Regions from separate parts of the Homo sapiens genome. Here region 1 is linked to region 2. The links come from fine-mapping of genetic effects on gene expression. A gene starts in region 2. The other region holds a variant in brackets. All regions are shown on one strand. Distances are from middle to middle.

Region 1 (4,349 bases), 94 kb after region 2:
ACCCACAATCCCAGCACTTTGGGAGGCCAAGGCGGGCGGATCACTTGATGCCAGGAGTTCAAGACCAGCCTGGCCAACATGACGAAACCCAGTCTCTACTAAAAATACAAAAATTAGCTGGGTGTGGTGGTGCATGCCTGTAATCCCAGCTACCTGGGAAGCTGAGGCAGGAGAATTGCTTGAACCTGGGAAGCAGGTTGCAGTGAGCCAAGATCGTGCCACCGCACTCCAGCCTAGGCAACAGAGTGAGACTCTGTCTCAAAATAATAAAAATAAATTAAAAAAAATGAAAACAGTCCCAAGTTGCCTGCTGTAGGCTGATTCTGTTCTCTCAGACTGGTGAGATGAGAGATGTAGAGACAGACAGACAGACAGACAGACACACACACACACACAGAATGGGGCAGGGTTTGCGAGCTTCACTAGGTAGAATACAATACAGTGAACACTTCTCAAAAACTCTGAGACCGTGAGTGGGGGAAGTGGCTGGACAGGTGGATGCTCACATAAGCCCTAGGACACATTGATGTACTGGAGGCAGACAGGCAGAGTGTGGCCCATATAAAACACCCGAACTTGCCCTTACTCTGCAGGAAGTACATGGAATGGGAGACAAAAGTCATCCAGGACTTAGGAAAACTAGGTTCTCTTCTGGCTGTCATTAACCATCAATGTGACCTTAGAAAAGTCATTTAATCTTTCTGTGCCTTAATTTCTTCCTCTGCAAAATGAGGAATAGTATTGGCCTTGCTCACCTCATGGACTTATTTTACAAATCAAATGAGACCATGGAAATGAAAGCGCTTTGGAAAATCCTTGGAGTTTTATGAATGTGGGGCATTAGGATGAGAAAAAAGTGTCTGGAGTTCTCAGATTCATGAAAGCCCTGAGGCTGCCAGGGCCCCTTTTTGGTAACCCCCTTCTCTGAAGATCCATCTGCAGAAAGGACAGGGGCTTGCCAGGCTTAGGGTGAGACGTCCTTCCCAAAACAGGCCTGGGAGAGCTGTTTTCTGGCAGAGGTCCAGGTTACTCAGTGTGGCTCGATTGACTCAGAGATGACAGCTCCCTATCCACATGGCCTCCAGCCCTCGTAAAAGTCACGGCTGCCCTGTGTTCTATCTTTTCTATGAGCTCGACACTGCCAAGTGCACATCCCATCTCAGGAAATCCTTACAACGACTCTGAGATAGAGATACTGCTGACATTTTACAAAGAAACTGAAGCTCGGAGAGTTTAAATAACTTGCCCAACCCTCACAGCTATTAAGTAGCAGCCACAGTTCAATTTGGGCCTAGCAGAGTGCAAAGCCCATTATGCTCTTCTACCAAGCAAGGTACAGAACTTCTGGGGAGACTCACTTGGTGGGGGTGAGGGACCCGGAGACCTTCCTGCAGGAGTTGCCTTTGCCCCCACACACCCCGCATTTGTCCAGCTTCCGAGGCGAGTCCACCACATGGTCACAGCCGGCCTTGACACACTGGCCACGGACACAGATGGCCAGTGTTTCTGGCCCACACAGGGTGCCATCAATCACCTGCAACGGGGAAAGGGAAGGTGAGGGAGGGCGTGTTGAGCACAGAAGCAGCCTGCCGGGGGGCGGGGGTGTGGGGACAGGCGACCTTCCTCCCCATCTCTGGATCTGAGTCCCAGGGTGATTCTCACCTTGGCCTCGAACACTTTGAACTCGCTCCTCCCCCGGGCTCGGCAGAACAACTTGCAGCGGTCCCGGGGGGACACCCCAGCATACTTGGGGACCCACTGCAGGAGATTCCCGTCCATGTCAGTGTAATTGTAGGCATTATACTTCTCACACTGCTGCTCCCTGAAGCTTTTCCCTAGAAAGAGGAAGAAACGGCATGGAGGTGACACCCATGCGGAAGCAGGAGCATCCGGTGGAGAAATCCCGAATTTACAGCACTTTTC[T/G]TCTTTCTTTTGGTTTTGAACTCAACCCAGGCGCCCAGGGCCAGTGTCTTCTGGGCACAACATTCCTAGACGCATGTGTGACCCTTACTCAAAAGGGCAAGGAAAGGAGCCTCCAGCCGCATGCTGGGCTTTCTAGGATAAATGCCCTTTCCATTAGGGAAAGAGACTCATTGTACTCTACAGGTGAATAAACGCAGGGAGCAACAGGGAACAATTCAGTAAGCTTGGAAGGCACAGAATGGCATGTGGAGCTATATTCTCAGGACACTACTAATTGTGCAGTATCGATTTCCTCAGTGACACCGGACATGAATCCAAAGACTCCTAAATCTACATGTCTAGCTCTGATCTTGCCCCTACACCCACATTCCGTAATTCTGGGTGTCCCTGGGGAGCTCCGTTTGTATGTACTGTGATTACCTCCAACTCAGCATGGCCAAGCTCCCGATGGTCCTTCCACGAACTGTCTTGACTTTCATTTGCTGATCTTACCATGCCCAAGTCTGAGACTGGTATCCTGGTATCTCCCGAACATTTGAGCATCTCTATCTGCTATTTCCAAACTGTCACAAAGACCCACACTATATTCAGGACAATCTGTGATTTAAAACGATGGCATCCCACTCTCACCACCACAAGCCCAGGCCTGCTGGCTTCATGGGGACCTGTGCCTGCCTCCTCTCCATCCTGCCACGTGCTGCTGCCAGACCAACCCATCTGAAGTTAGATGTGGGTTGCTTTCCACCCCCAAATCCTAAAATTAAAGCTGTTCTTCCTGCCAAGGTTCCCTGCCCAAACTGTGCATCTGAATGCCTGGGGAGACTTTGCCAAGGCAGATGCCATACTCCACGCCTGAGACTCTGAGTCAGTGCAGCTGAGGGGGTCTGGGCTGTGTCTGCAGGAGCTTCCAGGTGACTTAATGGGACAGGTGGCACAGATAACTCCCAGATACTGTGTCAGCCTTCAAGGACCTCTGTGGTCTGGCCTTGACATAGTGGTGTGCTTTGCTTGATTCCACCTAAGTGAATGAGGGCCCTTCTCACACCTTTCCACCACCCTGGCAGGTCCCCTCACACCTCACCCATCTCAGTCCTCCAGACTCTGCTCAGTCCTAACTCCTTTCAAAGCTTCCGCTCACCCAGCCTTTCCTTTCTCCGAGCGCCTCACCAACCTAGGGTCTGTGACTCATCCATTGAAATGTAATGGCTGTGTTAAAGGGATTTGGGTCTCTAATTGGACTACAAGCTCCTTAGGGACAGAGACCATGCCTTTTACATTTTCATACATTTTTATAGTTCTAGACACACAAAAAATACTAAAAAATACTCGACAGTAATGGCAGACTTTGGTGCATCTGACATCATGGCATCACTTTTCGTCCACACCTACCTTGCACCCTATATTCATTCTCATCCTCCCCCTTTCCCAGCAACGTCTCACCCTGTATGCCAGGCAAACTCTCATACAATTCCAGGGCAAAGTTTCTAGAGCCTCAAACCATTGTGGATCCTTCTTGTCTTGTGAAACCGCAAAGCCTACAGATTCTCCTGAGACATCAACCCAATGCCAGTGTCTTTTCCCGTGGTTGAATCTCTCCTAAGGCTCTGCCTGATTTTTCTTGCCTGCCAATCCTTCCTGGAGCTGCACACTGGGCAGTTGGATGGGATGGTGGGGAAAAACCTTGTAATGATTTCCCTCTCACGAGTTTGCTGCTGCCCCTTTACTGCCTCTAAGTTAATGTTCATGGTTTCCAGCAGGTACTGGGGATAGGAATATGCCAAGGGGAGGGAGAGGTAGTATTCCTTCCTGGGAAGATTCTGTCAAACAGTTGCCATGTTCCCAAGGGAAGATGGGCAACTCTTCTCAGAAGGAATGTGAACAGGAATCAGATTCAGAAATCCTCCCTCTGCCCTGGGCTGAATTTTGGCTAGAAAGACCTTGGAGGTTTGGCTCTGACACTTGCTTTGGAAAATGCTTCCATTCTGCACACAGATGAGGGTTCCTATGCCTCCAGGAGGATTAGTTTCCTAGACACCAGCCCCTCTGCAGAGGCTCCTCCCCAATAAGTTTGGTTGGGAGTGATGTCCTCCTCTCCACATCTTGGAAGATGAGCGTAATTTCTCTCCTTGACTTTGCCAGGCTCTCTGAACACTATGAGAGCTGTCCCGGGTCCCTGAGAGCTGCCCCTGGGATTGGAACCTTGCAGAGCCCATTTAGGTGGAGATCACAGGCAAAACTCTACATCCCAGGAGACCCAATTTACTCCCCTCTGGGAGTAACTCTATATCCCGGGACACCCACTTCACTCCCACTTTACACATCCTCTGGGGATGCGTCATAGCAATGATAGTAGCTGCTCTGGCAGGGGCGGCCCTGAGTGGTAATTACCGTCAGGGGGGCATTCCTCCGTGTGGCATGACTGGTAC
Region 2 (4,385 bases):
TAAAATTGTACTTCTATTGAGAAGTACGGTAGAAAGTACACGAAAGTACATCTATACTGGAATTATATTTGGGTTGAAATCTAAACTATCTTACTAGTTGTGTGCCCTAAGGCAAGTTGTAATTCTTCGTATCACTAAGTTTGTCACTTCTATAAAATTCAAGTAATAATATCTGCATCATTAGGTTGTTCTGAGAATTAAATAATTACAAATGCAAAAATGCCAAGCAGTACTGCACAAAATGAATAATCTGGTTTTCATAATTAATCAGTACATTACTAATAATCCTAAAATACAAAACTAAAGGACTACGTTCATTATATTCACATTCTATGATAAGGGGAAACTACATTAGGTAAAATTATTATTAATCCACTGACAGTCCAAGTGAAGTAATGGGGGAAATGAAGATTTATACAGTATTTTTTAAACCCAAGAATTCCAACTGAACACCTAGAGAAAAGGAAATCAAAATCGTGCAGCTTGCTTCCGGTATCAGCCGATCTCCAAATAAAGCATTAAGAAAATAAGTGGAAGTTATGGAGAATTTCTTCCTGACTTCAAGAGATTATCTACTTACACGCTGAAAAAGAAATTAAGTTTTTGTCTTCATTTTTGTAAGTTCCAAAAAAAAGCACACAATTACGGGGTTTTATTGTAAATTCTGCTTGGATTCATAGAACTCACATGGACGCAATTTCCTTTTAATCAGTTCTAACGTACCTGTCATTTCTCGAGGTAACCCCTTTTTCTGATTAGGCCAGCAATAAAACGACTAGATGCAGAGTGATCCTCAGGAAGGAAAGGAAAAGAGGTGTGTGTGTGTGTGTATGTGTGTGTGTGTTTGTGTGTGTGTATATATATATATATATATTTTTTTAAAGAAGTGCCATCTTTTTCTTTCTGTACCAGAGAAAAAGCAGAAGGGGAAAGGAGGAAAAAAAACAGGTCTGAGCCTCCCGGGTTCGACCAGGTGAGAGGTGGCAACACTCCGGCCGCTCCGGGTTAGGGTGTTGGGCAAATGGGCGTGCAAAGGACGGGCAGCTCCCTGGAAGGTCGGGGTAACTGCTCCGGGACCGCGGGGCCCAAGGCCGGTCTCCTCCCAGAAGGATTAAATGCCACCGAGGGGATCCCGTGGGGTGTCTCCCGGCGCGGACTAGGCTGACAGACCCGGCTCTCCGCTCCCTTCGGCGCCAGGTGGGGGCCACGCGGTGTCAGCCACGGGCAGCGTGCAGGGGCCGTCCCCCGCGCGACCGGAGCCCGCCCTCCCCTCCCCGTTACCTGCGGGCGGCGGCGCCGGGCCCGGAGGCCTGCTGCTCCTCCTCCTTCTCCCGCCAGGCTGGGGCGGCGAGGCGGCGGCGGCGGCGGCCCGGGGGGAGGGGGCGGAGCGCGGCTCGCTGCCTCTCTCCTCCCCCGGGAGGCTCAGGGGCCCCTATCTCGGGCCGCCGCGCCTAGGCCCGTGAGCAGCCTGTGGTGGGGCATGGCGGCACAGCCACCGGCGTGCCCGCGAGTGGGAGTGCGAGGAGGCGGGGAGGGAAGCACCCCCAGCGCTCGGAGGGGCCAGAGGGGAGGAGCGAGGGGGCCCGGGAGCCGCGCGCTGGCGACCGTTGGGGACGGTTGGCCGAGGGCAGGCGGTTGTTTGGGGAGCGCGGCGACGGCTCGCGTGTTCCCAGCGGGGCGGGGTGGGGAAGGGGAAGGGGACTGAGGGGAGGGGAGGGGGAGGTTGGGAGGGAGCCGCCGCCGCGCGCGTGCGGCCGGCGCCGCCGCCGTTGCCGCTCCGCTCACTCCAGCCTGTTTGGGGGCACTTTGTTTGTGTCCCACAATGCTCTGCGCCGGCGGCCTGGCTGGGGAAGGGGAGGAGAAGGGGGCGGGGCGGAGCGCGCTCGGGGGCGGGGCTCGGGGCGGGGAAGGAAACGTGATGATTGCGCAAGCGCAGAAAATGGGCCCTCTTGGCCGTCGGGACTTGTACTGTTGGTGACTCCGTCTCCTTAGACGGTGGAGCCTGCGTGACCCAGAAAGGCCGTGAGTCTTGACACTGTATTTTTGCATATGTGCGCACATGTGCCGATTTACATTCACATGCCCCATAAGCCCTGTCCCATTTGTCCTTCCTCTAAGCCGTCCTCTTACCCAGTTCCCCTCTCACACCTGAGAAGCATTTCTCCGCAGGAGTCACATTTATAGCATTATTTTTTTCTTCGAACTAAAAACATAACTCCTATTTTCTCGGGTAGTTTTTGTAGGGAGGTCGAAATAGAAACACTTCAGCCCCTCTTCGGCGAGGGAGGTTAGTTGGTAAGGTGCCCATTGTTCACCCATGGAAACAGGCCTGCCAAGGGCCGCCCCGCAGACAGGTGAGCCCGCGCCCCCGTCCTGGGCGGACTGCGACATGCGGCGGGTGTCTGGATTGCGTGGCTCCTCGGGCCTCCTCGCAGTGCTTGCTCTCTTCCGTTCTAGCACTTGCCTCGGTGACCTGGCAGGACGTGCGGTTCTTGAGATGAGTGGAGAAACGGACTCCCAGGTCCCTCTCGTTCTTCCAACACAGGGACAGCTAGAGCTGCTCCAAAAATATACCCTACTTCTTCCACAACCGTGAATCTGTCATTTTTACTGCACCATCACTTACTTCCTGGCCTTCCCGGAGGAAGTGTGCGGGCCTCCCCGAAGTAACCGGTACCGCCCGGGGGGTTTTGAAGTTCTTGGTCAACTGCAAAATCAATCAACCTAGTTAACTCCTAGGGCCCTAAGTCTTGGCTTCCCCTGGCCAGGCGGGCGAGCGCTCTCCACACCGCCCCCGGAGGTCATAGGGGTTCCCGGGACTGCAGGCGGCAGCGCCCCAGGTGCCTGGGGGCGGGCGGGGTGCGGGCAGGTGCTCCTTGGGCGCTTTCTGTTTTCCCACGCCTCCAGTTTGCAAACCGAAAGACTTCTTTCCAGAGGGTTTTGTGCAAGGTGGGTGGACGTCCCGCTGAAGTAGAGTGGATTTTCCTTTTGAAACACTTGGCAACATCTCACATTAATTCACTCTGAGAGACAAGCAGCCAAGCACCTGAACACCCTGACACTTGCAATCTTCTTTAGGAATAAAGGCAATAAAAACAACTTCTGTTTTTATAGTCCTTCGCAGTTTCCAACAAGTTTTCAAGCATGTATAATGTTATCTAATCCTTACGGCAACTGTAATTCACAGGTTTTATCACAGGTTTCTATTATTATTCCCACTATCATTCTTATTATTCCCATTTCAGAGATGAGAAAAATCAGAAAGATGCGAACTAGGCCCAGAAACTTTTGCACTAAGTTTTGAAGAGGGGAAGGGAAAGAAGGCGGAATGCTTACCTGGGAGAGGACTGGCGGCCACAGAGCAGGGCTCAGGAAAGGGCATGAGCTGGGGCCCTGGTGAGGAATGTGTGAGAATGTATGTAGGTGGTAAGCAACTGGACAAGAATCAGGGTGGAAATGAAGTAGTCAAATCCTATCTACCTCTCCTAGTGCCTTTAACAGGATAGTCAATAAAAGACCATGAGGCAAGTCTTTTCTAAGTGCTTCTCCAGGGGCTGTGGTGGCAGCTCCTCAACTACTACACTGACACAAAAATTTGCTTTCCTTTGTAGTACAACTTGAAGTCAGGTAGAGGAATGCCTCTAGCTTTGTTATTTTTGCTCAGAATTGCCCTAGCTTTTCAGGGTCTTTTGTGGTTCCATACAAATTTTAGGATTTTTTTTTCTAGTTCTGTGATGAGTGTCATTGATATTTTGGTAGGGATTGTACTGTACCTGTAGGTGGCTTTGGGTAGTGTGGATATTTTAACAATATTAATTCTTTCAATTCATGAGCGTGAGATATCTTTCCTTTTTTTTTTTTTTTTTTTTTTGTTCTCTTCATTTTCTTTCATCAATGTGTACACTTTTCCGGGTAGAGATTTTTCACTTCCTTGCTTACATTTATTGCTAGGTATTTTATTTTGCTTTTTTGTAGCTATTGTGAATGAGATTGTTTTCTTGATTTCTTTTTCAGATTGATGGCTGTTAGCATATAGAAAATCAACTGTGCTGGGTGTGGTGGCTCACGCCTGTAATCCCAACACTTTGGGAGTCCAAGGCAGGCAGATCACGAGGTCAGGAGTTCAAGACCAGCCTGGCCAACATAGTGAAACCCCATCTCTACTAAAAATACAAAAAAGTTAGCTGGGAATGGTGGCACGCGCCCGTAGTCCCAGCTACTTGGGAGGCTGAGGTGGGGAATCACTTGAACCCAGGGGGTGGAGGTTACAGTGAGTCGAGATCGTGCCACTCCAGCCTGGCGACAGAGCAAGACTCCATCTCCAAAAAAAAAGAAAAGAAAAGAAAATCAATTGATTTTTGTATCCTTCAACTTAACTGAATTCG

Direction of the effects. Alleles are on the strand shown, and positions count from the first base shown. SD is a standard deviation of normalised expression in the study named.
In carriers of allele T in region 1, the expression in cerebellum of the gene that starts at base 1,900 in region 2 tends to be lower than with G alone (moderate effect, 0.46 SD a copy in GTEx).

The links. PIP is the estimated chance that this variant, and not a neighbour inherited with it, causes the effect.
Region 1: its variant is the best candidate, but not a certain one, in a credible set for the expression of ZBTB44-DT in cerebellum (GTEx, PIP 0.68).

Annotation. Positions count from the first base shown.
Region 1 is chr11:130,407,106-130,411,454 of GRCh38, forward strand. It overlaps ADAMTS8 (ADAM metallopeptidase with thrombospondin type 1 motif 8), which reads right to left. Exons shown (of 9, transcript NM_007037.6): 6 at 4,312-4,349; 7 at 1,663-1,835; 8 at 1,359-1,534. Among named protein-coding and RNA genes, the nearest start is that of ADAMTS8, 19 kb to the right of the region's middle. The variant T/G (reference allele first, on the strand shown) is at 1,924.
Region 2 is chr11:130,313,094-130,317,478 of GRCh38, forward strand. It overlaps ZBTB44-DT (ZBTB44 divergent transcript), which reads left to right and starts at 1,900. Exons shown (of 7, transcript NR_148980.1): 1 at 1,900-2,022. ZBTB44 (zinc finger and BTB domain containing 44) reads right to left here and starts at 1,824. Exons shown (of 8, transcript NM_001301098.2): 1 at 1,282-1,824. RefSeq lists enhancers at 978-1,027, 2,188-2,287, 2,458-2,557 and silencers at 1,118-1,947, 2,858-2,917.